Homo sapiens: one gene and its partners. The protein of the gene in region 3 interacts with the protein of the main gene of each other region in a pairwise test. Each region holds a gene or a part of one and is shown on either strand. Other genes may lie near its edges.

What was found.
Region 1: the proteins of MYCBP (region 3) and ARFGEF1 interact in binary tests that used the Homo sapiens proteins (3 or more experiments, as listed by UniProt).
Region 2: the proteins of MYCBP (region 3) and ARFGEF2 interact in binary tests that used the Homo sapiens proteins (3 or more experiments, as listed by UniProt).
Region 4: the proteins of MYCBP (region 3) and AKAP8 interact in binary tests that used the Homo sapiens proteins (3 or more experiments, as listed by UniProt).

Annotation. Positions count from the first base shown.
Region 1 is NC_000008.11:67,263,732-67,271,028, forward strand, and holds part of ARFGEF1 (brefeldin A-inhibited guanine nucleotide-exchange protein 1), read right to left. Parts: intron 3,712-7,297; coding exon 3,612-3,711; intron 3,500-3,611; coding exon 3,360-3,499; intron 3,254-3,359; coding exon 3,145-3,253; intron 2,477-3,144; coding exon 2,275-2,476; intron 1-2,274. UniProt on the Homo sapiens protein: Promotes guanine-nucleotide exchange on ARF1 and ARF3. Promotes the activation of ARF1/ARF3 through replacement of GDP with GTP. Involved in vesicular trafficking.
Region 2 is NC_000020.11:48,916,680-48,924,779, reverse strand, and holds the start of ARFGEF2 (brefeldin A-inhibited guanine nucleotide-exchange protein 2), read right to left. Parts: upstream 3,070-8,100; 5' UTR 2,891-3,069; coding exon 2,770-2,890; intron 1-2,769. UniProt on the Homo sapiens protein: Promotes guanine-nucleotide exchange on ARF1 and ARF3 and to a lower extent on ARF5 and ARF6. Promotes the activation of ARF1/ARF5/ARF6 through replacement of GDP with GTP. Involved in the regulation of Golgi vesicular transport.
Region 3 is NC_000001.11:38,863,349-38,870,468, forward strand, and holds part of MYCBP (C-Myc-binding protein), read right to left. Parts: intron 4,263-7,120; coding exon 4,214-4,262; intron 3,662-4,213; coding exon 3,532-3,661; intron 1,367-3,531; coding exon 1,322-1,366; 3' UTR 1-1,321. UniProt on the Homo sapiens protein: May control the transcriptional activity of MYC. Stimulates the activation of E box-dependent transcription by MYC.
Region 4 is NC_000019.10:15,376,676-15,384,011, forward strand, and holds the start of AKAP8 (A-kinase anchor protein 8), read right to left. Parts: upstream 3,113-7,336; 5' UTR 3,057-3,112; coding exon 3,038-3,056; intron 340-3,037; coding exon 301-339; intron 1-300. Other genes in the region: AKAP8L (A-kinase anchor protein 8-like), read right to left, coding at 3,447-3,755, 3,842-3,937. UniProt on the Homo sapiens protein: Anchoring protein that mediates the subcellular compartmentation of cAMP-dependent protein kinase (PKA type II).

The DNA of each region.
Region 1 (7,297 bases), on a different chromosome or scaffold from region 3:
CCCCTAGAAGCTCTCACTGTAATGGAAGAAACACAATTTTAAAGAATTATAATACTAAAACTGTGACAAATAGATGTATTCACAAGGTAAGAAAATAACACAGTAGAAGTAACTAACTTAGATGGTCATAATATATTTCCTGGGAAAGGTGACTCTGGAACTATTTTGAAGAACAATTATATCTTTTATAAACAATAAGAAAAAACATGCAAGAGAGGAAGAAGCCATACTAAAACACAAAAGCACAAGACAGTATTATATAATAAATAGTTCTGCATTGTTGGAAAGTGAGGTGAGACAGAAAAGTGGCAGGAAATGAAGCTTAGAGTCCAGCAGATCCAAATCATGAAGGTATTATCATACCTTCAAAGCAGCTTTGGTTTTATTCTCTAAGAGAGGGAAAAAATAGACTTTCATTCAAGAAAGGTTACTCTAGTTAAGCATGGGAAAAGACTGAAGAATGAACAAAACCAAAGAAAAAGGTAAGCCAATTGAAAGATTATACTAGTTGAGGAAATAAATAATCATGATTTGATTTGCAAGAATAGTGGTGGGAGATCGAGAAAAGAGTACAGATTGCAGGGATATTAGGAAGTATAATCAACAAGTCTTAGTGACAGATTAGATTCGAGAATCTAATCCTTTGAGGGGAAAATCTAAGCTAACTCCCAGGATTTTAGCTTATAAATTTAGTAGCATGCTGGGGTTACTACCATAAATAAGAAATACAAAAATAACAGGCTTCTCTATTTGTCTTTTGTTTTGGGTAGGAGAACTAAGGGGCTGATGTTGGAAAAGGGCTGAGGAACAGAACGCTGGCAATGCTAAGATGCACGCAGGAAGAAAGAAAAAACAGCCCACAAGACTGAGACGGCATAGTCAAAAAGGTAGGAGAGAAACAGGATAGACTGGTGTCATGAAACAGTTGTAGACAAGTATACTAGGAATACAGTTCCATGAAAGCATTCTCATCAATGGCTGTATTAAGTAGAAAGCAAGTCTAGCTGCTGAGAGAAGGACTGGGAGACTTCCACTTCGAAGCCCTCTGACTACTCCTTCTCATTTCTCAAGTACTTCAAAATAAGTACCTTGGCAGTACTTACTCTGTACGACACTCTTTTATAAACATTTACACAGTACTATTTTTAAAAATTGCTCATGTTTAGAATGCAATCTTGAATACAAGGACCAATGCCTTCATGGTGCTTGGCAATAGTCCCAAGTACCAAATATGTGTTTACTGGGTGACCAGCAGAATTTCAATATGCATATTTGTTTACACACACTAGACCAAGAGCCTCTCAGAAGGAAGGGCTTTTCCATGTATCTAGTTTCCCCAGGATCTTGCATAATATCTGGAAAGATGAGACTTTAATAAATATTGACTGAACAATTAGAATTAATGCAGTAGTGACAGCTATTTCCTGAGGCAATTTGGTAAGATTTTGTAATTTTAAAATAGAATATGTGTACATTTTTGTTGAACTGTTTTTCATATTAACACTGGAGAAAAAAGACACCTGAACATTCACTAAAAGGCACTGCTTAAGTATCAGGAAGAAATGCTTTACAGAAGTAGCAAACCAAGTAAGCACACAGGGGAATTTTTAAGTTTATAATAGTTAGATTCATGGAGACGGCAAACAATTTCATTTTTCCTTATGGCATCTCTTTGAAAAAAAGAGATGGGCAACAAGAGAAAGGAAGGCAGCATGGTGACATTCACAAAGGAAATAGTCCAGGAGCAGGCAGGTATCACAAAGCTTAGTGGGAAAACTGACTTCACAAGATTAGGATCCGGTACACTAGCCAGGCTGGAAGAGAGGTGATCACCTCATCAACATATAAAAATGAAATCAATAACAAGAATAGTACATTTGTAAGCCAGCTGGAAAAAATGTAAGACCTATAAAGGAGTACTGATAGCTATTAGAAGTTTCATATTTTAAATGTTTTGAGTTGTCACATGATTAGAAAATATAATGGGGGGATGTCATGAGCTAAACAGTGCAAAATTGCACAGATGATACCCATCAACAGCACTTATAATATGGTGACAAATTAATTTATATGACAAGAGTGGTTGGGCATTACAGGAATCTAGTTGGGCTAGACTGCAATGAACAAGGGGGGCTGAATAGGAGCCTCGTGAATTAGATCCATGAGAACTATCCTCCATTTTACTCATTATAAGGTGATAAACCCACGGCAGGGGTGGCACTATACTGGCAGAGAGATATTCAATAACATTTCTCCTTAAGCTATGACACTTACAAATCTATCCCTTGTTCTATTATTTCTTTTTGTTGCTTTAGGACCTCAAATTGTTCTGGATTATCAGTGCCAGACATCTGTGTACTGTAGCTGCCTATTCCTGATGATGATGTTGACTCCAGGGAATTTAAACTTCCGTATCTGTTTATTGTCTCAGGGTGTTTGATTTCACTCATCTCTTGCTCTGAGGGTTTTTCCTGACCTGAAAGAAGAAAAATTGATAGAGTACATTATTCTATCAAAGAAAAAAAAAAGTGTAAGGGCAAACAAATTCTTGAATAAGGCAAGGCGTTTCAATGTTGCTTAGATATCTATTTAATACAAAATAACTATTAGGTAACATAGTAAACAACATACTTTGATATTAAAACACACTGTAATTTGTACGTGTATAGTCTGCACCATTAGGAGGAGTTCTTTTTGCAGTTGCAGTGCTGAGTATCCACTGGATTTCTGCTCTCAGCTCACTCCTCATGAGGAATTGTTTTCGATAATACCAGTGTAGCCCTGCAGCTATGAGTTTTTCTCTGAGTGAGGGTAAACATCAAACACAGATGAACAATTCAACCTTCTTAAAACATACTGCCTTTTATATGTTTCCTCTATAATTATAATACAAGAAAGTTGCATAAATATGCTTCATTTTACATAATCAAAATATTTCTAAGAAGATTTAGAAAAAAATAGTTTGGATAACTAAGTTAAAAATCTCACAATTTTAAAGCTAGACATTTAACTCACAGAGAATGTTTCCTCATCAGTTAAATGAATAAATATGTCATGAAATTGGTTTAACAGCAGCTGCAACTATCCTCCAAAGTATTATTCACTTAAAATGACAAAGAATTACAGCTCAAAATATCACCTTACCAAGAGTTGTCTGGGAGTTGGGATTCACATACTGATCCTTACTCCATTCAACCATACACTTCAAAATCGACACTAAGCATTCTAAACCTTTTTTCCTCAGGCTCAATTCCTACAAAGTAATTCAAAAACAAAATTTTTTTTAAAGGTCTTTTAAGGAAAACACATGACTCTTTCCTGGTAAAGTTTAAATTTGAAAATGTTTTTATAGTTCTTACCTGAACATTACTCATACCAAGTTCTTGACTGCCCCTTCCTTGAGCAATTTTTGATAGATCATTTACTAGTCTTTCAAATATATTGGCTGCATTTAAGTCACAGTCATAGTTTACATAAATATCCACTACACTCTGAGCATCTGTAACAATATAACATTAATTTCAACAAAGTACATCTAGGATATGAGTACATTTGGCCTTTTAAATATCTAATAATAAGAAAGAGATAATAAAAAGGATAATTTAAAATACCTGCACAAATCCTCGTCAGTGTCTGAATAACCATCCATTTGTGATCAAATGAGCTGGTAGAAGTTTCCAAAATGTATAAGAAAATTTCTTTAAAGAACACCTGTGATTAGGAGAAAACTTCTGTTTAAAATATTGTTTAGAATTCATATGTGTGATCACTTTTTAAACATCCCAGAGCTATAGAGCAGGTATTAGGACCCAGGCTCTTATGGAGTTCAACTCCTTTTGAGTTCCATCTCTGAATCCTCAGGACTAAAATATCTTGGGTAAGTGACTTAAACTTGCCCTTCTAGTTATCAGTACTGCAATTCACATTGATGTGTTTTGTTCTCAACACAGCTGCTACAAAAGAAATATGCAAAGATTTAGAGTTCCTCTAGGTGATAATTTCTTTAACATTTTTACAGAATATAACTTACGCTTTTTTAATCCCCCTCCAAAAGCGTAATTTATACTTCTGTTCATCAGTTATATTTTTCAGAGACGTTCTAGTACTGAGAGGCCTAACTGTTCGTAGATTTAAATGTAACTGATACTCTAATCAACACAATAAAAACAATCTAAGTCTCATACGGTTTTATTTTTCTAATTACTCACAAAAGTGAAAATCTCTACTGTTTGAAAACTACATATGAACTATTTCTCACTACTCTTTACACCAAATAATCAAGCAGTGAGTTAATCAACCTAATGAGATAAATTTCAATTTAACAGATAAGAATTTTCAGATTTAAATGTATTCTATAAAAGTGACTTTAAGAAGGAATGACTGAAACAACCAACATATTAACATTTATGAAACATATGCATTATGAACCCAGAAAATCACATTTATAGTATCTCCCCCTAACTGGATTAGGTACCCCTGTAATGTGATTTTCTTTCACAAAACTCAGCATATTTCTATTTACTTGTTTAATATCAGTATCTCCTATAGACTGTAAGCTTGAAGACAGTAATGACCAGGTCTTTCTTGATAAAGATCACGTCCATATTGCAGGGCACATAGTAGGTGTTCAATAAATACTTATGGCAACATGGCCACAATTCCCAAAAACTGCATCAAAGTACCCCAGAATGCTGTAGCAAACTCATGAGGGTGCCCTGAAAAAATTCTGAGGCAAAATTCAGAGGGAGATACATCTGTTGGATACCTCAAAAGATTGCTCATGGTTTCAAATAAATCACACTACATTCCCTTCAATGACATAATTATCTCCGCAAAGCTGGGTTTTGGTAGTTGCTATGATAAAAAACCAAGTACTGAATGAAAATCAATGAAGTACAGGAATGAGGGGGACAGTATTCAATTCCAAGATCTAAGAAGCTGTGTGCAGTTTCTAATAGGCACACGCATCCCAGTGGTAAGTAATTGCGGTAAAGAATAAAATAAAAACATTATTTTTCTTTTACTTTATGCATACTATTGTCTTTGAAATACATAGTAGGCTGTGAAGACAAATATCCATTAAGTTGTTTGGCCCTGCCTGCTTAATAAATAGAACATAGAACTGGAGGTATTCCTCTGGCCAAAGTGCAACTTTCATGAAAAGTCAGACTTGTGAATCAAAAACTTTTGGGATCCTCTGATTGACAAAATAAATAATATAGACTGGAAGAGAGAGGGAAGAAAAAATTTTAGCTACTATCAATGGTTTATCAAATTGCACTAATAAGCAAAAGTCTATTGCTGTAATATAAGATATTATGCCTATCATAATAGGGGCTCTAAAAAAATCAACCTTTTAATAATTTATCGAGGACCTATAATGTATGTATGTGGAACAACAGCTATATCTTAAGTATGCTGTCTTCACATATGTTCTCCTGAAAAGTTGTACATAAACTGTATCTTCTGGAATAGATATATAATTTAAGACCCATGAAAAAATCACATCACAGAAACTCTGAAGTGAATATTCTCATAAAATGAATCTTCATGTAAAAACAATCTTAATTTTGTTTTGCAAATTTAGGTTTTCATAGCTGGGCTTTCTCCACGTTCAGCTTTTTTTTTTTTTTTTTTTGAGATGGAGTTTCGCTCTTGTTGACCAGGCTGGAGTGCAATGGCGCGATCTTAGCTCACTGCAACCTCGGCCTCCCAGGTTCAAGCGATTGTCCTGCCTCTGCTCCCAAGTAGCTGGGATTACAGGCATGCACCACCACACCCGGCTAATTTTGTATTTTTAGTAGAGATGGGGTTTCTCCATGTTGGTCAGGCTAGTCTCGAACTCCTGACCTCAGGTGATCCACCCGCCTCGGCCTCCCAAAGTGCTGGGATTACAGGTGTGAGCCACTGTGCCCGGTGCTCAACTCATTTATAATTTGAGTGTGTATAACATTTTTGAAAGTATATCTATATTTATCTCATTTTACCCTCATTATCGCCCCCTGAGGGACAATAAGGAGTGAAATAAACCTAATTTTTAAAAATTAGAATATTATAATAATTTTGTAATGAGAATCTGACATCTACAAATTGACAAGAAATTTCTTAAAGTTTTTCCTTTCAAATTCATTTTTGCAAAGTTGAATTTGCTGTGCAAAAATAGTAATCTCAACTTAAATAATTTTTGATATCTAGATCTAAGAATTTATATTTTACTGTCGGTAAACAGTACCTACAGAAGCAGAATCTCAGTGTCCAAAAAAATCTGTAATTGGTTACATAAAGTATTACAAAATTTTCTAATGCCAACTTAAATGTCTCATCATCAGATGAAAGACTTCTGGTTTTTTACAAAAGCAAAAGTTCTAAAAGTTTTTTTAACTGTCTTTTATTTATAGTTCCTACAGATAATGGGGAAAAACTATCTAAAAACGGCAACTCTTCCTAGTTAAACGCCTTGTATTATCTTAACAGACATATGGCAAACTCTTAAAACTTGACATCATACATCATATAGGCACCAAAAATGGTTTCCTGTCCAAAAATATGGCCCAAATTAAAAAGCTTTTCACTTAAAATACCAAGGCCTAATTCTGTTTCATTCTCATAACAATGCTCTAAATCAATCTTGATAGCTATTACAGAACATTAACATTAAAGGATAATATGACTATTTTAGCCATTTCGAAATTCTGGAAAAATAATTTATCCTTTCTAACAAGCTAGTGAATTATGAGTCTTGAGTTAGGATTAAATATAAAATTAACAAAAATTAAAATATAACCTGTATATCAAACATAATATGAAGGTAAAAACTGACAACATAAAAATGAGTATTTCAAAACCATACAACATCACAACCAAAACAACATTTCAACAAATAACAAATTGAAAAAAGCATTCATTAAATTGGTAAAACATAAAGTACTATTTTTAAGTTTTATTTGAAGATGAAAACAAAAAATCAGAAACTGGTACACCTTAAAAAAAAAAAAAAAAAAAACCACATAAAGCTGGGCGCAGTGGCTCACACCTATGCTCCCAGCACTTTGGGAGGCGGACGCGGACAGATCACCTGAGGTCGGGAGTTTGAGACCAACCTGACCAACATGGAGAAACCCTGTCTCTACTAAAAATACAAAATTAGCCAGGCGTGGTGGCACATGCCTATAATCCCAGCTACTCGGGAAGCTAAGGCAGGAGAATCGCTTGAACCCAGCAGGCGGAGGTTGTGCTGAGTCGGAATCGCACCATTACACTCCAGCCTGGGCAATAAGAGGGAAACTCCATCTCCAAA
Region 2 (8,100 bases), on a different chromosome or scaffold from region 3:
CAAAGAATACACTCCTAGCTAACATCTACACTATACAGTCCCTGCAGCCCTGATCCTCTCCCCTAATATGCTACAGCTGGTGGAATCATATCACAGAAGCTGTTTCCTGTAAATGCTCTCTATCATCCAAGCATTTCAACTTTGAGCCGTCATTTACAGTTCCTCTTATCACAATTAACAACAATCTATACATGGTAATCTCTAAAATACCACATAGCTGCTCCTTATACACTGGCTCGTTTCAGCCTTTTTTTTTTTTTTTTTTTTTGAGACAGAGTCTTGTTTTGTCGCCCAGGCTGGAGTGCAGTGGCGCAATCTCAGCTCACTGCAAGCTCCACCTCCTGGGTTCACGCCATTCTCCTGCCTCAGCCTCCCGAGTAGGTGGGACTACAGGTGCCCGCCACAGCGCCCAGCTAATTTTTTTTGTTATTTTTAGTAGAGGCGGGGTTTCACCGTGTTAGCCAGGATGGTTTCGATCTCCTGACCTCGTGATCTGCCTGCCTCAGCCTCCTAAAGTGCTGGGATTACAGGCGTGAGCCACCGCACCTGGCCCCAAATTTCTCTTCTTAAATGGGACTACTGGACACAAGACTGGGCCTTGAGAGACAGAGAGAAATATCACCAGGCATTCTGCTATGTGTTCTACTCTAAGTAAAAGCAGTCATTTCTATTTAACAGCAATGACACACAATTATTCTCTTAAAAAAGATGGTCACTTAACAATATGCATACGTTCCCTTATGACAGTTCCTATTATGCCATTGGCACAACCCCAATTTGTGATTCATATAACCTGTAGTCAAATTACTTCCTATCTAGGCCATTTTTTACAATTCACTACTAAAAACTGAAAACATGCATTCCACTACTTGTGTTAGGAAAACTTGAACTTCTGAACAAAGATACGATCCGAAAATATCTATTAAATTCTCAGCGTTAATGGCCCTTCATGACCCAGATGAAAATTTTATAAGTAGGTTCCAATAATATGATGCACACTTTGGTGAAAATTTTATGTTAAGAAGTTTTCTGAAGAAAAAATAAAAACTCTTCTGCCAAATAACTATTCTGAAACCTCCACAACAATATCGAGAAGATAGAGTCCAGGCAGATTTCAACGTGGAGTTATAAATACCAGGCTCTTGCCTAACAAACTGCTTTGCAGTGCTTATCCCACATTGCTGATAAAATACCCAACAGCCTTGGTTATTGGAAGAGAAAAGCTTTAAAAATCTACATCTCAGTAAATTCCTTCCACTGATCCTGAATTTCACGGACTAGCAACTGTTTCCAGATTATCTAGACTACCACCTCTGCATCAATAGTTGGCCCCTGAGGGAGTCTCAGGGCCCTCTGAAAATCTGATGAAAGCCAGGGACCTTCTTTCCAGGGAAGTGCAAAGTTCACCAGCCTATTTCTAAATGCCAAAAGAACACTACTCTATACTTTGTAGCAAATGAAAGGAGAAAGGTGATAACAATCTCAAACTATGTGACTAAAAATCAAACTTTCCATTTGCTCATTTTGTTAGGAAAAACAGGCCTTTACAGATTCCAAACCAAAGACGTTGGGGCAGTGAATTAGCTTGAAAACAGCTCTGGTCAAATGCATGGATTCTCCCACCAAGAACTCTCTTCTGAAACTCCATATGGTGGATAGTTCTTGCCTTTCAGTATTCAGCTCAAGTGTCACCCTCTTGGAAAAGATTACTTTCCTGACCACCTGATTACTTTTCCTCTTGGAAAAGATTACTTTCCTGACCATGGAAAGCAGTCCTCAAGCCCTCTTTATCACATCTTGCTGTTTTATTTTCAAAATAGTATTTATCAGTATTCCAAAATACCTCACCTATTTTCTTAATTAATTATTTTGTCTCCTCTATTCGAGTATAAGCTCCATAGGGGTAAGGACCATGTCCGTCTTGTTCCCCACTGAATTCTCAGTACCTGGTATGCAGTGGGCACTTGATAAATATTTGTTAAATGATTAAAACTGAAAGATAGGATAGTGATTTTGCTATCAATTATCAAGCCTTTAACTATTAGTTAGAATTCTCCCTCTTTCCATAATCTGAGGGTCCATTCAATCAGCAAATATTTATCGAGCACCTACTGTGCGCCAGGCACTGTTGCAAGCGCAAGGGATACAGCAATGAATAAGTCAGACAAGTATCTTCGCGCTGAAGACCTTGTATTTTAGTGGACTGCTAGGAATAAGCAGATGTCTTGCTCACTACAATGCCTGGGAGATCCAGAACACCTTCTACAATCCTTCCTTGAGGGAAAGAGCTATGGGAGATCCCCAAACCAAAGGAAAACATTCTCCAACGGGCACTTCCAAAACAAGAATCAGGGGTTTCCCTAAACCAGTTGGACGGCTCTTCCTACATGCTCTGTTCACCTAGGGGAACCCCAATCAGCAGAGCTCAGGTAACGAAAAAACTTGGGGCAAGGGCTACTGTTTCTAGGACTTGGAGGTGGTGAGGGGAGGAACCAGGAAACAGGGCGACAAGGAATCGTGGCAAAAGCCCTGAGCTGGAACCCTGAGGAACAAGCTCTGGTTGTCACCAACTTGCTAGGTGACCTTGGGCCAGTCCCGAGCTGCCCGGGCAACACTTCCTCCGGGGGTATAATGAGGAGGAGGCCGGAAGGGTGGAATTCGGGATCGGGGGGAAGCGGAGGCCAGGAGGCCGGGCCAAGGCCGAGTAGGATAGGGCAACGGCCGACGTGCTGAGGCCAGCGCGGGGCAGGGCGGGAGCGGCTCACCCACCGAGCGCCACCTGGCAGGCCCTGCGCAGCTGGGAGTGCTGGGGCCGCTTCACCTCCTTGTCGGCTAGGATCTTCTCCAGGGCCCGGGACACGAACATGCTCTTGGTCTGGCTCTCCTGCATGGCCCCGGCCCGGCGGGGGCTGACGGCCCCGCGGGCGGGCGGCGTGAGCGAGATGGCGAGCTAGGCTGCGGGCCCGGCGTCCCGGCCGGCACCGGCCGCGTCCGTCCGCGCCGCCCCGTCAGGAAGCGACACCTCGGCCCCACGGCGCCGCCATGTTGGAGCGCGTCACGTGACCACGTGACTGGCGAGGCCGCTACGGCCGCCTAGCGTCCGTCGGCCCCGTGACCCCCAGCGGGGCGGAGCCTAAGGCTGGGGGCGGAGCGGAGTCAGGTGGGCGAGAGACAGAAGGCGAGGGTGGAGGGTGGAAGAAGAGAAGGTGGGGAGGGGAGTGGGCATGGGCGAAGGGTATAGGGGACGCGGGGGCTAAAGAAAGGCGAAAGCGGGGAGAGGTGGTGATGGAGATGAGAGGAGAGAAGCGCAAGGTAACGGGAGGTGAAGGGGAGCACGAGAATGGAGATGACGTGGGTAAGAGAGGAGATGAGGAAAGGAAGGGGAACGAGAGGATTGGCAAAAAAGAACGGTGACAAGGAGAGATGATAAAGGGGCAGGAGGAGAAGGCGAGTAGGAAAGAAAAGAGGTGAGGGAGCGAGGACTGGAAGCTGGTGAATGAATGAGAAGTGATCGGGAGTAAGGGGCGTCAGGAGGAAGGAGGAAGGGCGATGAGAAGGCGGCGGCGGAGGGGAAGGGGGGAGGCCCGGCGCGGCGGCTCACGCCTCTAATCCCAGCGCTTCCGGAGGCCAAGGCGGGAGCATCGCTTGAGCCCAGGAGTTCGAGACCAGCCTGGGCAACATAGGGAGACCCTTTCTCTACAAAATAAAAAGTAAAACAGCCGGGCCTGGTGGCGCTGCTTGTGGTCCCAGCTACTGGGGAGGCTGAGGTGGGAGGATCGCTTGAGCCTCGGAGGTTGAGGCCGCAGTGAGCTGTGATGGCACCACTGCACTCCAGCCTGGGCCACAGAAGGAGACCCTGTCTCAAAAAACAAACAAACAAAAAGGAGGTGAGTTAGTTATGGAGGAGATGAGGTGGTGTGGGAAGAGGTGAGAGGGAGGCACAGAGGTAAAAGAAAAAGGAGAAAGACAGGAGGGAGAGGGGAAGTGAAAAGGAAAGAGAGGTAGAAATGAGAGGAGGGGAAAGAGTAGGAGAAAGGGTGAAGGGAGAGGAGGTAGGAAGGGGAGCTGTCAGGAAGAACAGAAAAGAAAGAAAAAGATGAGAGTAACAAGTTAGGAAAACAGGAAAGAGATGGAAAAAGGAATGGTGTAGGAAGGAGGTGAAGGGGAAGGAGGTGAGGAAGAGTGGAAAGAACATGCTGGGAGAATAGGAAATGGAAGGGGTGGAGGGAGAGGGGAGGTGAAAGGAAGACAGAGAGGGAGAGAGAGAAGGTGTGTTTATGTCTATTCTCCACAAGCAGGGTTTCACCACAGCCACTGGCAAGATACACACATCCATATGACCCTCCTGTCACAGCAGCAGTGACCTTGCAGTTCAGTGAACTTCTGTTTATTGAGTGTCGCAGCTGTGCATAGTATACCAGGAAGCACTGACCTCTCTCTGTAGTTTATCCTGTTATAAACCTGTGAACCCTCACAGTGCAGTGAACTGGACCTGGGCTTTGGGAGTCAGGGGAAGAAACCCAGATGGCCAGTGTCACACAGCCTGCAAATGAGTGCTGGGGGACAGATACTCTGGCCCCAAGGCAGCTTCCACTCCATTCCACAATGATGCTATCACAGCAACCATTAGTGGTGTCCCCTGGGCCCCTTCCCCCAAGGGCAGCCATGGGCTTATGCAAAGACAGTTGTCTTCCTTGGAAACCTCAGAGGCACAGACATCCCAGGCAGGCATGCTCCAGTGCTCGGGTCTTAGCTCAGACGTCTCTGGGAAGCCTTCCCTGACCTGTCTCAAGTAGCCCCCTCTCTCCCTAGCTGATGTTTTCCACAGCACTTTCTGAGCTTTTGTACGTGTTGACTATTTGTTGTCTCACTAAAGCACGGTTGCAGAGGGGCAGGCCATATCCCCAGGGCCCGGTCTACAGTCACGTTGAATATTTCATGGCCTTAAATTCTGCAAGTTCCACTGCTTGTAATGCGATTTCGCAGTCACTCCCAGCAAGAGGTAGAGTTTGTTTCTCCACCAGCCTGAACCTAGACTAGCCTTGTGGCTGGTCTTGACCAATAGAATGTGACAGAAAAGAGGCTGCACAAGTCCCAGAGCATCAACAGCCCTGGCTCACTTCTTCCTTTACTGCCTGGGAATGCTGAATGACACTCAGAAGCAGCCCTGGGCAGGTCAGTGGCTCATGCCTGTAATTCCAACACTGGGAGGCTGAAGTAGGAGGATCACTTGAGCCCAGGAGTTCGAGACCAGCCTGGGCAACATATCAAGACCCTGATGCTACAAAAAATTTAAAAAATTATCCAGGAATAGTGATGCCTGCCTGTAGTCCCAGCTACTTGGAGGGCTGAGGTGGGAAGATTGCTTGAGCCCAGGAGGTGGAGGCTGTAGTGAGCCGTGACTGCCCCTCTGCCCTCCAGCCTGGGAGACAGAGCAAGACTCTGTCTCAAACAACAACAACAATAATAACAACAAAATGGTAGCAGCCCCAGAAGAAAGAGCACGTGGATAGGGAGCCCAGTCATTGCAGCTCTCCCAGCCGACCCACCAGCTGAATACAGCAGCACAAGTGACTAGTGAGACCAGCAGAAAAACTGCCCAGCTGAGCCACAGAATAGCAGAAAACAAAAAATCATTACTTTATGCCACTACATTCTGGGGTCTTGCTTGTTACACAGCAATAGATCACTGAGACACACCTCAATCCTTATGTGTTGAATGAATGAATGAATGAATGAAATTCTCTAGAGTACAGTGCAGTCTGCTGAGTAACATGTTTTGATCCCACCCCACTCCCCCCAACACACACACACAGCAAGGCCAGACTATGTCACTCCCCTGCCGAAAATCCAACAGAGGCTCCCTATTGCCCTTGGAATTGAGTCCAAGTTCAGTATCATACTGTGGCCAACAAGGTGTGATAGAGGCCCTGCCATTTTCTCTGAGCTCATCTCCTTCCTGCTTTTCTTCAGGACTCTGGCCACTCTGGGCTCCTTTTTGTTCCCATCAAGGGCTTGTCTTACATTTTTCTGTCCCTCTTAATCAGTGCTTCTCCATGAAGGCAGTACCACCCCCAGACGCATTTTGAAATTTTGTTGGGGGGATATTTCTGTTGTCGTAATAGAGGGAACAGGAATGCTAGATAACATCCTGCAGAGAGCTGAACAATCCTATGTAACAAACAATTCAATGTATGCCACATGGCCAGACACTCCTGGAGATGAAAAACTTATTGATAATGATCTGAGCCTAGAATCTAAATCTGCTTTACATATAAAATGTTTTTTGCTGTAGTTTTTTTGTTTGTTTGTTTGTTTGTTTTGAGATGGAGTCTCGCACTGTCGCCTAGGCTGAAGTGCAGTGGTGTGATCTCCACTCACTGCAACCTCTGCCTCCCAGGTTCAAGCGATTCTCCTGCCTCAGCCTCCTGAGTAGCTGGGATTACAGGCACCCGCCACCACGCCTGGCTAATTTTATTTGTATTTTTAGTAGAGACGAGGTTTCACTATGTTGGCCAGGCTGGTCTCCAACTCCTGACCTCAAGTGATCTGCCCGCCTTGGCCTCCCAAAGTGCTGGGATTACAGGCGTGAGCCACCATGCCCGGCCCTTGTGTAGATTTAATATCACCACATTTTCCAGAAATGCAAATATCATTGCAATTCAAGGGAAATATATATGTATATGTATATGTATATGTATATATACATATGTATTTTGAGACAAGGTTTCACTCCATCACCCAGGCTGGAGTGCAGTGGTGTGATCGAAGCATGCAACACCATGCCCAGCTAATTTGAAAAAATATTTTTGTAGAGATGGGGGTCTCCCTATGTTGTCCCTGCTGGTCTGGAACTTCTGGCTGAAGCGATCCTCCCACCTTTGCCTCCCAAAGTGCTGGGATTACAGATGTGTGCCACCATGCCTGGCTAATTTTACAATTTTTTTTTTTGAGGCAGAGTCTCACTCTGTTGCCCAGGCTGGAGTGCAGTGGTGTGATCATGGCTCACTGCAGCCTCCACCTCTTGGGCTCAAATGATCCTCCAAATTCAGCCTCCAGAGTAGCTGGGACTACAGGTGTGTGCCACCGTACCTGACTAATTGTTAAATATTTTTGTGGAGATAGGGTCTCCCTGTGTTGCCCAGGTTGGTCTCAAACTCCTGGTCTCAAGCGATCCTCCTACCTCCACCTTCCAAAGTGCTGGGATTACAGGAGTAAGCCAGCACACCTGGCCAGAAAAATGTATTTTGTCTGGAACTTTACCAAATATCATTTACCACTTCAAAGCCACATTGCTGTCATTTACACCAGCTATGGTATCTGATTTGCTGCTAGGGCACTCCAATCAGCCTGCACATATGGCTGTGGCAATTCCAGGGGATCCCACTTTTAGGTTCCAGCATCCGCCTGCTTCATTACACCTTCTAGTGTAATTGTATCTGAGCATTTATCTATTGAAATAAAATTTGCAAATTATACATTGCATTCCTTTTGTTTCACCTTCGTAGTCTTATTAAAACTGTGTGTGGGAAGATTTTATTACCTATGAATTTCATTTCAGAACAGCTAACAAAGGCCTTGCAGTTATAAAAGGGGGTGTGTAGTATCTGCTAGGGTTGGAAAGCACTGATGGCTGCCCCCTTCCCACCACTCTGCCCTCAACTCAATGTCACCCACAAGGTCACCAACCTCCCAGTTTTATCCCTCCTACCTCCACTACTTGCTTCCATATCATCTTTTGTTAGTTGCACTGAACTGAATTTTAAATGATGGTGTTTATTTATCTGTATATTAGTTATCTGTTGCTGCATGATAAATGACCTGACACTTAGCAGCTTAAAAGCAAACATTTCTTATCTCACAGTTTCTGTGGGTCAGGAATTTGGGAGCAGCATGGGTGTTTCTGGATCAGGATCTGTTGAGATTGCTGTTGAGCTGTCATCTGGGGCTGCAGTCAGATGAGGCTCAACTGGGGCTGGAGGATCAACTTCCAAAGAGGCTCCCTCTCATGGGACAGAGGCCTCAGTTCCACTCCTCTCGGTAGAGCTGCTTGCATGTGCTCATGCTGTGGTATCTCCTGTTTCCCAGAGTGAGTGACCC
Region 3 (7,120 bases):
CAAAGATAGGTTCTCTAACAACAGGGAGAGAATATATGAAATAGGAATATGTCTATAAAACGACAGTCTACCAGTAAGGAAAATAAGTGATCCATAAAACAAAACATCTGACTGTAGGTCTACCCAAAGAAAGGAAAAAGGACTAACAAACAAGAATATAGTGCTTTACCATTTACAAATCTTTCACATACATTCTCATTTGACCCTCACAACAACCCTGTGAGGTAGGCATCACGGACATTCTACTCATTAAACAGATGAAGACAGTAAATCTCAGAGTAGTTCACTGATAATGCCCAAGGCTCTACAGTTAGTGAGTGATTTGTATTAATATCAGTCTTTGGCCTAAAAATTCAGCACCCCTCTTCCCCTTATACTTGTCCCACCTACTTCACAGGGATAATGAAGATAAAATGAATTCAAGGCTAGAAAAATACTTTGAGGGAGAAAAGCACTATATAATTATACCTACAAACTATGATTTTCCCCAATATATGGCTCATTCCTCTTCTCATCTCAGCTTGTGTGTGAACCCAGAGTTGTATATTGCCTCTGTCCTGTGCTCAGTAAGCAAATAAGGCAGGCAGGGGGTACAGTGTGATCCTGTTTAAAGTTACATAAATTACAATCAGGGTAACTGCTATTATTAGGCAAATTGAAAAACAGCACAGAAAGGCCAGTGTGCAACTAGGACCCACTAAAGCTCAGAGGAAAGCAATGCAAGATTATCAGACAGGCATGATTGCATAGAAGGAAAATGTGGTGTCAGAGTTCAAACTGGCACACACACACACAGTTATCTAAGGCAAAGTGGTGGCAAAGAAGTTATTTGTTCCATGTCACACAAACAAGAGCAGAAGATTCATGGGAACCCGTACAAAAGCATCTTGTGTCACACAGATCTCTCCAGCTGCCTATAGGGAATATACAGAACAGTGTCACCTTCAAAGAATGACTGTACCTGTGTTCATATCCTGAACTGCACCAAGGAATAGCTCCATGCTAAACTGTCTTGGCTAAAATACAACCAGTGCCATCATTCCTAATCAGACTAATAAACAGAATGTCTTTTAAGGTAATGAGTTAGATGGCTGTGTTTAGGTTTTGTTCAGGATTTACTTTGGATTCTCCTGCTTTAAGACCCAAAGAAAGTTATATTGAGTTTTTATTGATGATTCTATGTGTTTTTAACAGAGTGTGATAGGTGAATTAAACATATTAAAAGAGTTCTATAGCATCTGTTCAGAAAAGATTATATACTATACAAACTATTCAAGTCATACAAAACCATTTTTCATTGTCTTTCAAACTGAGAAGAATCCTATTCAGCACGCTTCTCCTCCTGAGGTGGTTCATACTGAGCAAGCTATGGGGCAAAGACAGAGGAATTTAGGTGAATTTTATTCTAAATTGAGTAAAAAATAGTAAAACAAGGTAACTGTTATATTCAACTTAGTTACTGTCAGTAAATTGTATTAATATCAGTTTCTATAACTATCCATTTTAAATCATTCAGTGATTTAAGATTTAATACAATCAAATCTAATGAAAGCCCTTTTTATATAAACCTTTAAAATTGCTTTGAAACTAAAATTTCATTCCAGTTCATGACTGCACTGTTCAAATACTTGATATGCAATAAACTATATCTTCCCAAAGATTCATTTGCTTATAAGGAACTTTCTTCCTCTCCAGCAAAAGTTTACTGAAAATACCCACTGAAAAGTAGATAAAGAGTTAAGTGACATGTCTTAACTTAACCAGCCAATAAACAACTACTAATGTCTTTGAGTTAAAAGGTTCCAAAGAGTTAACTAGCACTACACATTGTGGAATCTTGGATAATTTAAAATAACTGCATTTTCTTTTATGCTAAGTGTGGTTCCTTGCAAGAACACTAGGCTAACATTAGGGTTCTGCCAACTACCTGTTGGAGTTGAGAAGCTTATTAGACTTCACTGTGCTTTCGTTTCCTCACCTATAAAGTGGCTTGTGTACTTGTTTCACTTATCTCACAAAGTTGTTGAGAAGATAAAATATATTATGAGAAATACTTAGAGTAATGTAAAATACATTATGTGATTAAGAATGTGGTAAGACCTGAAAGACTTAAGAGTTGACTAATTTGAAGTTCATGAAAATTCTCACAGGACTTTGAAAAAAGAAAAAACTGGCTGGGTGAGGTGGCTCATGCCTATAATCCCAACACTTCGGGAGGCCAGGCCAGGAGGAACGTTTGAGTCATGAGTTTGAGACCAGCCAGGGCAACATAATGGGACCCCATTTCTACAAAAAGTTTAAAAATTAGCCGAGCATGGTGGCAAATGCCTGCAGTCCCAGCTACTCAGGAGGCAGAGGTGGGGGGATTACTTGAGCCTGGGAAGTCAAGGCTGCAGTGAGACATGACTGCACCACTGCACACAAGCCTGGGTAACAGAGAACCTGTCTCAAAAAAAGAAAGAAAAAACTTTAGCACTAGATAAAATTAAGTCCTAACAAATTTACAGAGGGCCGCTACATATGGCCTTGCAAACTATGAACCATACAAATTCTAAGAAGTGCCATTTACAAAGCAGTCGCCCCATATTGGCCTACTTAAAATCAACTGCTTAAGAACCTCAGAACTGACCATTTACTTATAAAGAACATTAACCAATATTCTCATCCTTTTAGTAATACAGGTTCCTAAGAACCTCTTTTTTTTTTTTTTTTTTTTTGAGACAGAGTTTCATTCTTGTTGCCCAGGCTGGAGTGCAGTGGCACAGTCTCGGCTCACTGCAACTTCCACCTCCCGGGTTCAAGCAATTCTCCTGCCTCAGCCTCCCAAGTAGCTGAGATTACAGGCATGCACCACCAAGCCCGGCTAATTTTGTATTTTCAGTAGAGACGGGGTTTCTCCATGCTGGCCAGGCTGATCTGGAACACCTGACCGCAGGTGATCTGCCCACCTCAGCCTCCCAAAGTGCTGGGATTATAGGCGTGAGCCACCGCACCCAGCCAGAACCTCTTCTTGACCACACTTTGCTTCTTTGCTTGTCCTATTTCCAGTATGTCTTGCGGTTTTCTTTTTTTTTTTTTAACCCCCCTAGATGAAGTCTTGTTCTGTCACCCAGGCTGGAGCACAGTGGCACGATCTTGGCTCACTGGAACTTCCATCTGCCGGGTTCAAGCGATTCTCCTGCCTCAGCCTCCCGAGTAGCTGGGATTATGGGCACATGCCACCATGCCCGGCTAATTTTTGTATTCTTAGTAGAGACAGGGTTTCACCATGTTGACCAGGCTGGTCTCGAACTCTTGACCTCGTGATCTACCCACCTCGGCCTCCCAAAGTGCTGGGATTACAGGCGTAAGCCACCGTGCCAGGCCCGTCTTGTGGTTTTCTTGACAGGGCATAACTTTGGCCTTACATTGTAATTAATTCAAATTGATATTCACCCACCTCCCTCCCCTCCTGTCCATTTCAGTGAGGTTTTCATCATACAATTATTACAGGTAAAATTATTTGAATATGAATTCTTTTTAAAAATTTACCTTTGCTTTCAGTTTTTTATTTTCTTCTACAATAGCTTCATACTTCTCTTTCATTTCGGCCAGTTCTAGGCGAAGCAGCTCTATTTCTGGATTTTCTGGAGTAGCAGCTCCTAAGTGATGCTTTAAAAAACTATTATCAATGTTAAGAACTTACTTCTTAGACATGAATGAAACTAATGAAATAGCACAGAGTAGTATCAATATCCCTGACCAGAGTCACCCACTTTACCACCAATATCTACCCAGAGATCACCATCCAAAAACTCAAGTGAAACTAACTTTCTTGGCCAGGTGCGGTTGCTCACGCCTGTAATCCCAGCACTTTGGGAGGCTGAGGTGGGCACATCACGAGGTCAGGAGTTTGAGACCAACGTGATGAACATAGTGAAACCCCGTCTCTACTAAAAATAAAAAAAATTAGCTGGGTGTGATGGTGGGCACCTGTAATCCCAGCTACTTGGGAGACGTGAGGCAGGAGAATCGCTTGAAGCCAGGAGGCGGAGGTTGCAGTAAGCCAAGATTGCGCCACTGCATTCCCCACCAGGTGACAGTACAAGACTCCGTCTCAAAAAAAAAAAAAAAAAAGTAACTTTCTCAATATTCAGAAGTATTTTAAAGGTTATTATCTATCTAAAAAAATAAGAGTTTCAAAATAAAGCCTTTTTCTGACTTGAAAGGATACTCCAAAGCACTGTTAGGTTTCTCTGGTTCTTCATATAAGGCTACCAACACTGCAAATCAAAAAGCAGAAAAAGCAACAATTGACGTATTAAATTTGAATGGCTGAAATTATGTTCCATTACCCAGTAAATATTAGGTGCCAACTATACGCTGAGCACATTGCAAAGACTATACAATGCTGAACAAGACAGACAAGGTCCCTGTTCTCAACAAATTTACAGTCAAGCATAAAAGATATGCAAGGAACTAGACAGAGGGTATCAAGCAGGAATACTGGATAATGGGTTGCAGTAGCACACTGGAAGAACACCTAAGCAAACCTAGGACATCAGGGAAGGCTTCCTAAAGGAAGGCAAAGACCTGATACCTAGGGGTTGAGTGTTTCAGATAAAATGGGAAGGCCCAGGAGCAAGAAAACAATGTATTGAGGAACTGAAAATTCAAGTATGGCTGGAGATGTAATTTGGCAGGAAAGGAAGCTGGAAAGGTGGTCATGGCCAGATTAGGGAGAGTCATGCAAATTTGGTTGGCACATAATTAAACAGTTTAAAGGAAGGGAGTGACAGGATCCACTCTTAACTGCTATGTGGACCAGCTGGAGTGGGACAAGGATAAAGACAGGAAGAACAGTTAAAAGGCTGATGTGGTAATCCAGTTTAAAAAGACAGCAACCTGCAGTAGAGTGATGGGAGTGAGAGAACAGTGAGAAGAAAGAAATTCGAGAATTTAGGAAAGAATCAACAGGACTATGGTAATTACCGGAAGAAGCTCTGAATTCAAAAATGGTCTTAAAAATTAAGTTTGTTTTGCTAAATAACCACCAACCAAAAACTTTACCAGTAGTCAACATGCTCAAATCAACATTAAAATAAGATATACTTGAGTGGTTTCATATCTAATCACTCATATGAGCACTGCCTTGCTCTTCATCTATGGAACAAATTCCTCCTAGAATTTACTACTTAGATAAAAAACTCTAAATCAGTGGTTGGCCTTTTTGTGCATGGAACCCTTTGAAAAATCTAATAAAAGCAAAAAAAGTAAACACACACAAAAAAAATGTGGCTGGGCGCAGTGGCTCACACCTGTAATCCCAGCACTTTGGGAGGCCAAGGCGGGCAGATCACGAAGTCAGGAGATCAAGACCATCCTGGCTAACACAGTGAAACCCCGTCTCTACTAAAAAATACAAAAAATGAGCCAGGCGTGGTGGCGGGCGGCTGTAGTCCCAGCTACTCAGGAGGCTGAGGCAGGAGAATGGCGTCAACCCAGGAGGCGGAGCTTGCAGTGAGCCGAGATCGTGCCACTGCACTCCAGCCTGGGCGATGGAGCAAGACTCTGTCTCAAAAACAAAAAAACAAAACAAACAAACAAAAAAACAGTGATAGATATCTAGACCCCAAGTTAAGTCCTGTTGTAAACCAACTTACATACTTCCCTTTTGTTCTTTTAGAGTTTTAATAACTTACCAAAATAATATACAGTATGAAAAAATCACTATTTTTTGAGAAATTCATTTGGTTTTTTTTTTTTGTTTTTTTTTTTGAGATAGAGTTTTGCTCTTGTTGCCCAGGCTGGAGTGCAATGGCATAATCTTGGCTCACCACAACCCCCGCCTCCCAGGTTCAAGCGATTCTCCTGCCTCAGCCTCTCTAGTAGCTGGGATAACAGGCATGTGCCACCATGCCCGGCTAATTTTGTATTTTTAGTAGAGACGGGGTTTCTCTGTGTTGGTCAGGCTAGTCTCGAACTCCCAGCCTCAGGTGATCCACCCACCTCAGCCTCCCAAAGTTCTGGGATTACAGGTGTGAGCCACCACACCTGGCCAAATCCTCATTTTATAAGACATGAATATTAATACTCTACTCTCTCCTCCTCTTATTCCCCCACCCCATTTCTTTCAGCTTCTCATTTGTCACTGGTACTTGAAAGGTTGATAGTTGCAGAAGATACTGTAAATACAAAGTTTCCTGTGCTGTTCTATAGATGAAATGCACTTCCTTGTAATCAGACAAGAACTCTATACCCAATCATGCTCCCCTTTTTGCCTTCGCAGCCAGGATTTTTAGAGGTTGATATAGCGCTCAAAATAGCTAAAATGCTTCAGCTTCCAAATGATTTATCATCTTTAGCCATCCTTTCATAGTGTTTTAATGTTATAAACTATTTCAAATCATCTTGGAAATAAGCTGTAAAAATTTAGGCCAAAGTGGCTCATTCCTGAAATTCCAGCACTTTGAGAGGCCAAGACAGGAGGATTGCTTGAGCCCAGGAGTTTGAGATCAACCTGGGCAACACCCCAACTCTACAAAAAAAAAAAAAAATTGGCCAGGCATGATGGCTCACGCCTATAATCCCAGCACTTTGGTAGGCCGAGGCAGGCAGATCATGAGGTCAAGAGATTGAGACCATCCTGGCTAACATGGTGAAACCCCGTCTCTACTAAAAATACAAAAAAAATTAGCCGGGCATGGTGGCAGGCACCTGTAGTCCCAGCTACTTGGGAGGCTGAGGCAGGAGAATGGTGTGAACCCGGGAGGCGGAGCTTGCAGTGAGCAGAGATCGCACCACTGCACTCCAGCCTGGGTGACAGAGCAAGACTCCGTCTCAAAAAAAAAAAAAAAAAAAAATTAAAAATCAGCCGGACATGGTGGTGCGTGCCTGTAGTCTCAGCTACTTGGGTGCCTGAGGTGGGAGAATTGCTTGAACCTGGGAGATTAAGACTGCACTGAGACATGACTGCACCACTGCACTCCAGTCTGGGCGACAGAGACCTTGTCTCGAAAAAATATATATATGTAAATTAAATTTGTGAGGCTGGGCACAGTGGGTCACGCCTGTAACGTCAACACTTGGGGAAGCTAAGGCAGAAGGATCACTTGAGGCCAGGCATTCCTGGGTGACAGAG
Region 4 (7,336 bases), on a different chromosome or scaffold from region 3:
AAAATATTTTGCCAAAATAGAGTATTCACTAACACGCAAAAATTAGGAACTTCAAATTGTATTGTCTGTAAGTAACTACTGGCATTGTCCCATCCACTCTTTCACACATTTATGACTGCTTTCCTGCTACAGAGACTGTGGAGCCCATAAAGCCACAAAGATATTCACTATCTGATCTTTTACACAAAGTTTGCTGACCCCTGGGCTACTACTCTCCCTTGACCCAAGTTCAGCTCTGCCATGCTAGGGCCTTGAGTTAGGGGAAGCCCACGCCTCACCCGCAAAGCAGAGCCCACTTACCCTGGGTGTTGGCAGGTCCAGCACTCCACGCCCCGTAGCCTGCAAGAAGACCCCGTGAGTTAAAATTCTATTTGTCACACCAGAGAACGGGTCCTTTTGGGGGTACTCCTAAAGGGATCTCCTTACAGTTCAGTGCCAGCCTTAGAAGAAGGAAGACTCCCCCCCACCCCACCAAAAAAAAGCCATCACACAACTGGCTAATGGCGTCATCGCATTCCACCTGGCTGAGATCAAAGCAGAAAAAGAAGGGTGGGAAGTGGGCTTGGAAGTCAGCTCCGCCCTGCAGAGGGACCTTGGCCAAGGACCTCACCTCTCCAAGATTTCATCCACAACTGAGGCTAACACAAGACAATCCACTCAGCATGAGGACACGTTCCCCCACCCACCACACAGCTAGGAAACCAGTTCAGAGTGCCATCACAAGTACTTCGTAACTGAAAACAAGCATGGGAATTTAGTGACATAAATTGCATCTTTCTAAGCTGCACTTCCTGCCACTTTTTGTTTTTTTGAGGCGGGGTCTTGCTCTGTTGCCCAGGTTAGAGCGCAGTGCCGCGATCTCGGCTCACTGCAAGCTCCGCCTCCTGGGTTCACGCCATTCTCCTGCCTCAGCCTCCCGAGTAGCTGGGACTACAGGCGCCTGCCACCACGCCCGCCTAATTTTTTGTGTTTTTAGTAGAGACGGGGTTTCACCATGTTAGCCAGGATGGTCTCGATCTCCTGACCTCGTGATCCGCCAGCCTCGGCCTCCCAAAGTGCTGGGATTACAGGCGTGAGTCACCGCGCCAGGCCCTTCCTGCCACTTTTAAGGCCTCCACGGATCCCCTGGACCTTTAAGTCCCAGAGCCTTCGCCTGGCCCTAAGGCATCAGACAGCACTCTTCACCCCTCCACACCCCCCGCCCACTATGGCATCTGTCTGGTCCCTCCAGGAAGGAGAATGGGAACTGTGTTCTCTTTATTTCTGTGTCCCTGGGGCCCAGCACTGAGCTGCGCGCGGGTGGCCACCATGCCTGTTAAATGACTTCACTTTGATGAGGCAGGAACATATCCATGTCTCCCTCACCAGAACAACTCCCCCGCCCCCGGCTAAGTGCCTAGTGCGTGCCGATACACCGCAAGCACCCAGCAAACCCTGTTGTCCGGAATGCCATTCAGAGACAAGGGAGCTAGGCTCATGGGTTACGAGACTTGACCCAGTCATACTGCTGAGTTTTGCCCTCTGCTATGCTACGCCTTCCCCTCCGTCATACCGCAAAACCTTCTAAATTCGCATCCGTGCAGCAGAAAGGCAGACTGCAGATTCCAACAGCAAGTAACCAACCTCGAGAGACTGCTTCTCTGTGAAGCTCTAGTGTAAGTGGCACGCACTATTAACCTTAAAACGCTCCCGGAAACACAAGAAATCAGGGAAGCTTAACTATCTCCAGTGTGTCTGAAAGGTTTTCGGCAGGTAGGAAGAGGGGGTAAAAAAAACCTCTCCAAACTAAGAATGAAAAGAAGGAATACAATACCTGCAGAAAAGATCTGATGGGAAAGAAGGGAAAGAATGGTGAAATCTACCCAGGCTGCGGAAGACCAGGAGAGCCAGGCTGAGCCTTCGCTAGGACCCGGAAGACACCAAAGCACACCGCGCACGCTGCCGCCTCAGGACCGAAACCTCTCTCTGCAATTTCTGGTGCTGGGATACTTTTGCCCTGCCACTTCTCAAGATCGACAACTTCTCGAGCTCCTGCAGCCAGGATCAGACCACTAGCTTCTCTACAACCAGTCGAGCTCCACCCAGCATGTCCCAACTATCCCCTGTGGGCAAACTTTGCTCCCAAAAGGCTCTGATTCCAGAAGCAGGGAGCAGGCAGCTCGAGAAGATCGGCCCTACTGCAGGCCAAGCGCTAAATCCTAGTGGGGAAAGGACACGTTCCCTCCTGCACAGCCCCTCGGCCCCTCCAGGCCACCACAACAGACTGCCTAAAGGAGAACTGCCAATGTCACCAGCCCCAGGGCACATCAGGTTTCCAGCTTTATACGAACACTCAGCATCTGCCCCTCACCATCCTGTCCCAAGCCAGCACGCGCCGGGTACAGAGCTGGAGCCCGGCGAGGCTGACTCTCGCGCCGGCAGCACTCGGCCCCACCGCGCTGCACCGGGGACTAAAGGCCCGACCCCGCGCAGCCCGACGGCTTCCGGGACAGGCGCCCTGGGCCACGTGAGCCCAGCGGAGACCCTACACGGCCCCGCGGGCCTAGGGCAGGTCGGGAGAGAGGCGGCCCCCGCGGTCCGCCCGCGGCCCCAGACCCAGCTCCCCGGGTCCGACCTCACAACCCCACGCTGTAGCTCCGCCCCCCTAGCGCCGCCATTTTGTGGCGTCTTCGGAAGAGGAAGCCGGGAGTGCAAACCCCGGGGTCGCTGGGGGCCGGAAGGACTCCGCCGAAGGTGAGGGGCAAAAACGGCCCACACTGTCTAAGACGCCCCCACGAAGCCCACCGCGGCGTCTGCCCCAACCCCGAGTCCCGCCCGCCTCCTCGGGGCCTGGCGGCCAATCCGCACGCAGAGCCCCGGGAGCGACGGCGCCAAAGCCCAATGAGCGGCGCGCGCGCGCCCTGGCCGCCTCTCCGGAGGGCCCAGCTGGGGCAACCACGCTCGGGACGAAGGCCCGGCCGGCGGCAGTCTGCGCAGCGGCTGCGTCGCCCGCACAGAGCCTTCCCTCCCCGCTCCGCACCCAGCAGCCAACACAAACCTCCGTAGCCCTGGTCCATGTCTTCGACGCGGCCCACCAGCAGCCCCGTTTACTAGGCGACCACAGCACGCATGCGTTCAGCGCACCTCCGCCATCGACTACTGGAAGACCAGGCGCACACGTCACTACTTCCGCGCGCCCCCATTGGCTGGTCTTCACGAGGGCCCGCCCTCGCCGTCCCAGCTGGCCTTTCGGGCTGCTACGATCCAGCTCCGTGGCCTAATGGGAGTTGTGGTCCCACCGCGGTGCCCGACGGCCCGGCCCGCGCGCATGCGCACCCCGCCCCTCTGCCCACCCCGCCCCGCCCGCGCGGCACAGTAACAGAGAAACCCGGAGGTGGGATGGGAAAACTTTATTAGGTTTGGTTTCCAGCTTCGGCCACGCGGGCTCCGCCCGCCCCGAGCTCGGGTCACGGGGCGCCCCCGCCGCCCTCCTCGTCGTCCTCCACGTCGAGGCCCGGGATGCCGCGGATCTGGCGTTGCAGCGCCCCTCCCAGCAAGGGCACGGCGCCCTCCTCCTCCTCCTCTGGGGGCGGCGGCGGTGGCGGCGACACGGCCCCGGGGGCTGGCTCTGGGGGCACGGGAGGCTGCGCCGGCACGCCCTCTGCGCCCTCCGAGATCCCTGCCGCTTCGCCCTGCGCCCCCTCGTCCAGGGCACCGCCCTCAGCCTCCTCCTGCTCCTTCTCCTCCTCGGGGCTGTCGGTGAAAGGGTTCTCGCCCTGTGGGGAGGGGCGCGGACACTGAAGGGAGGGAGCACAGGCGGGGACTAAGCTGGGGACAGGGCAGGCCCGGACCAGTGCCTCACCTTCAGGTAGCGCTCCAGCTTCTTGCTGATGAGCTTGTTGTTGAGAATACTGCGGGCCACCATGAGGGAGGACTTCTTGGACTGCTCCATCATGAGCTGCGGGCAGGGCAGAAGGAGCTGGAGAGGCTGCTCTGAGTGCCCTACAAGTTGCTGCCCCGACCCTGCCAGCTTAGAGGGACCCCACCCCGCCCCTGCACCCACGCACTTCCAGCCCCACCAACGGAGGGCCACTCCACAAGCATGGAACCACAACCTATCTGATCTTTGTTCAAATTCCCTCTCCTTCCACACCACACTTACTGTAGGTAAATAAAAATACAGATCTATATATCTCTAACTTTACGGCTGTATTACAGAAATCTGATTTGCTTACAAAAAAGCTATAAGCAGTGAACAATTAAGAAACTAAGAGCCAAAGGTGGGTGCAACCTGTAACAAGGTGCCAACTAGGCTAATAGGCAAGGAGCACTTTGGGGCCAACGGGGAAGATATAAAAACAGGAACAGATATTTAATGAAACGTCTTTTTTAACCCACAGAATTCCAAGAATGAAGAATTATTCCCAGTCATGCAAGGGTGAAGAGAGTCTTCTCTGCTGGTGGGAGGATCAACTGTTTCCGTATTTTTTGGAAAGCAGTTTGACACAATGTATGAAAAGTAAAAATCTGTCTCATTAATCCCTTCCCAGAACGTATCCTAAATTTAAGAACTGGAAACATGCGTGCACACTGATTGTAGTGGTGAAAAATGGGAAAACACCTAAACGTTCCTCAGTGCAGAAGAGGTTAAATAAATCGTACATTCAAAAGAACATCATGCAGCCCTTCAAATCGGGCTCATCTCTGCACTGGCATAAGAAAGGTGTATAATATAGTACTGTCTGCAGAGCATGCCAGAGCCATTTTGTCTGGAAGGATTTCCATCAATATGCTGGGCCATCTCATGGTGGGAGTACAGGCAAATCTCACTTTGATCATTATAAAAACCATAAGGTAAAAGAAGGATATTTTTGGTGGGGTGGGAGAGCCCATTGAGTCCTTCCCACTCCATTTACATGTTTCAGAAAGCCTTCTCACTTGCTGTTTCTACTCTCTCCATCTTCATTTTTTTTTTTCCTTAGCACGTTTTCTCTACTACTGGAGGAAAATATTAACAGACATCATACATGCTCACAATAAACTAAAGATACACAATTAGGATACTACTATAGACCGTTCCCCCAGTGACTCTCACTTGCCAACAGTTTATCCTCCTGGTTCTAGATGCCCAGATAACCACACCATAAATTCTCCCAAGTGAGGCACATTTATGTTGCTTCCAGATCTTCTCCACAATAACCCAGCAACACTAGAATAAACTTGTACACTTCCATGCTGGTGCTTTTCATTCTAACCAGGTTTGGTTTCAAAGTGATAGTGCCCAATTAACTGCAGAACATTTGCAAGTCATGCTTCTTCCACCTGTGTTAAAACAATGACCTGGTCCTCCTGCCTGCCCATCAGCACTGGATGTTGTCACTGTTGGGTATTTTTGCTGTGGATAAAAGACAGAAGAATCTGTGCTGCTGCCTCCCACGGCATTTCCCTGCCCACCGGCGAGTGAGTGCTCTGGTAAGCACACTGGAACACCCGCCCACAGTTTATAATTTTCTAACTATTTTCTGATCTTGGTTTTCATTTTTCACATTTAAATTTTTTTTTTTTTTTTTTAAGACAGTCTCGCTCTGTCGCCCAGGCTGGAGTGCAGGGGCTCTCAGTTCACTGCAACCTCCGCCTCCCAGGTTTAGGCAATTCTCATGCCTCAGCCTCCTGAGTAGCTAGGACTACGGGCACGCACCACCACACCCAGCTACTTTTTTGTATTTTTAGTAGATACAGGGTTTTCCTATGTTGCCCAGACTGGTCTTGAGCTCCTGAGCTCAGGACCTCCACCCATCTCGGCTTCCCAAAGTGCTGTGATTACAGGCGTGAGCCACCACGCCCAGCCAAATTTTCTAGAATTTGATACAGATTGAGTATCCCTTATTCAAAGTGCTTATGACCAGAAGTCTTTCAGATTTTGATTTGCATTATACTTACCAGTTGAGCATCCCTACTCCAAAAACCCAAAATCTGAAATGCTTCAATGAGCATTTACTTTGTCATGTCTGTGCTGAAAAAGTCAGATTTTACTGGGCACAGTGTCTCGTGCCTGTAGTCTCAGCTACTCTCATGAGGCTGATGCAGGAGGATTGCTCAAGTTCAGGAGTTCAAGGCTATAGTGTGCAATGATTTCACTTGCGACCAGCCACTGCACTCCATCCTGCACAACATGGCAAGACTCAATTCTTTTTTCTTAAAGAAAAAGGTTTTGGATTTCGGAGCATTTCGGATTTTCAGATGACGGATGAACTCAATCTGTATATGTTATGAGGTAGAGGGTCCAAAATTTTCTTTTCCAGAAATGTACAAAACACACCATTTATTTCCCTACCAAATTGGCATATAGGTCTACCATCCCTTATCTATAAACTGGAAATCCAAAAGGCTCTAGAAAACAAGTCTTCCCCCAAAATTCATTTGGTGGCTAAATGTGAACTGACATTACATTTTTCATTTATATGTAAGTCATGTGAAGAATTATTTGTGACTCAACTACAAGGCGCTTTCCCCAGATCCTGTTGGAGAGGTTAGTGCTAATACCATATTGTCTTTCTTTTTATTTTATTTTAGAGATAGGAGTCTCACTCTGTTGCCCAGGCTGCACTGCCATTGTGTGATCACGGCTCACTGCAGCCTCAAACTCCTGGGCTCAAGTGATCTTCCCATGCTAGCCTCTTGAGTAGCTGGGACTATAGGCACTCACCACCATGCTTGGCTAATTTTTTATTTTTTGTAGAGACGAGATCTCACTATGGTCAGGAACTCCTGGGCTCAAGCAATCCCACCTAAGCCTCCCAAAGTGCTGGGATTGCAGGTGTGAGCCACTGCCCCCAGCCTTGCATATTGGTTTTCTGAAGCTGAAAAATTAATTCTGAGGCTTCTGGCCCTAAGGTTTCAGATAAAATATCTGTACTAACTTTAACAAATTACTAAGTCTGAAATATACTGAGATCTTTTGCTAGACTCTCTATTCTGGTTCCACTGTTTCATTACTGTGCTAATTATCACTTTTTTTGTTTTTTAATTGCAGCAGCTTTGTAGTAAGTTTTAGTATTTCTGAAATCAATCTCTCAGCTATTGTTAGACTGAATTTTACAATGTAAAACTTTAAAATAATTTCATTTCATTCAGTCCTACTCCCCGACTGATATTTTTGACTAGAAATGTGCTGTCTATATTAATTTGGAGAGAACTGGTTTTTGTTTTGTTTCACTATTAAATTGCCTATTTAAGAACACAGAACATTCCTCCATTCATTAAGGTCTATTTCTTTTTTTTTTTTTTTTTTTTTTTGAGATGGAGTCTTGCTCTGTTGCTCAGGCTGAAATGCAGTGGCATGATCTCAGCTCACTGC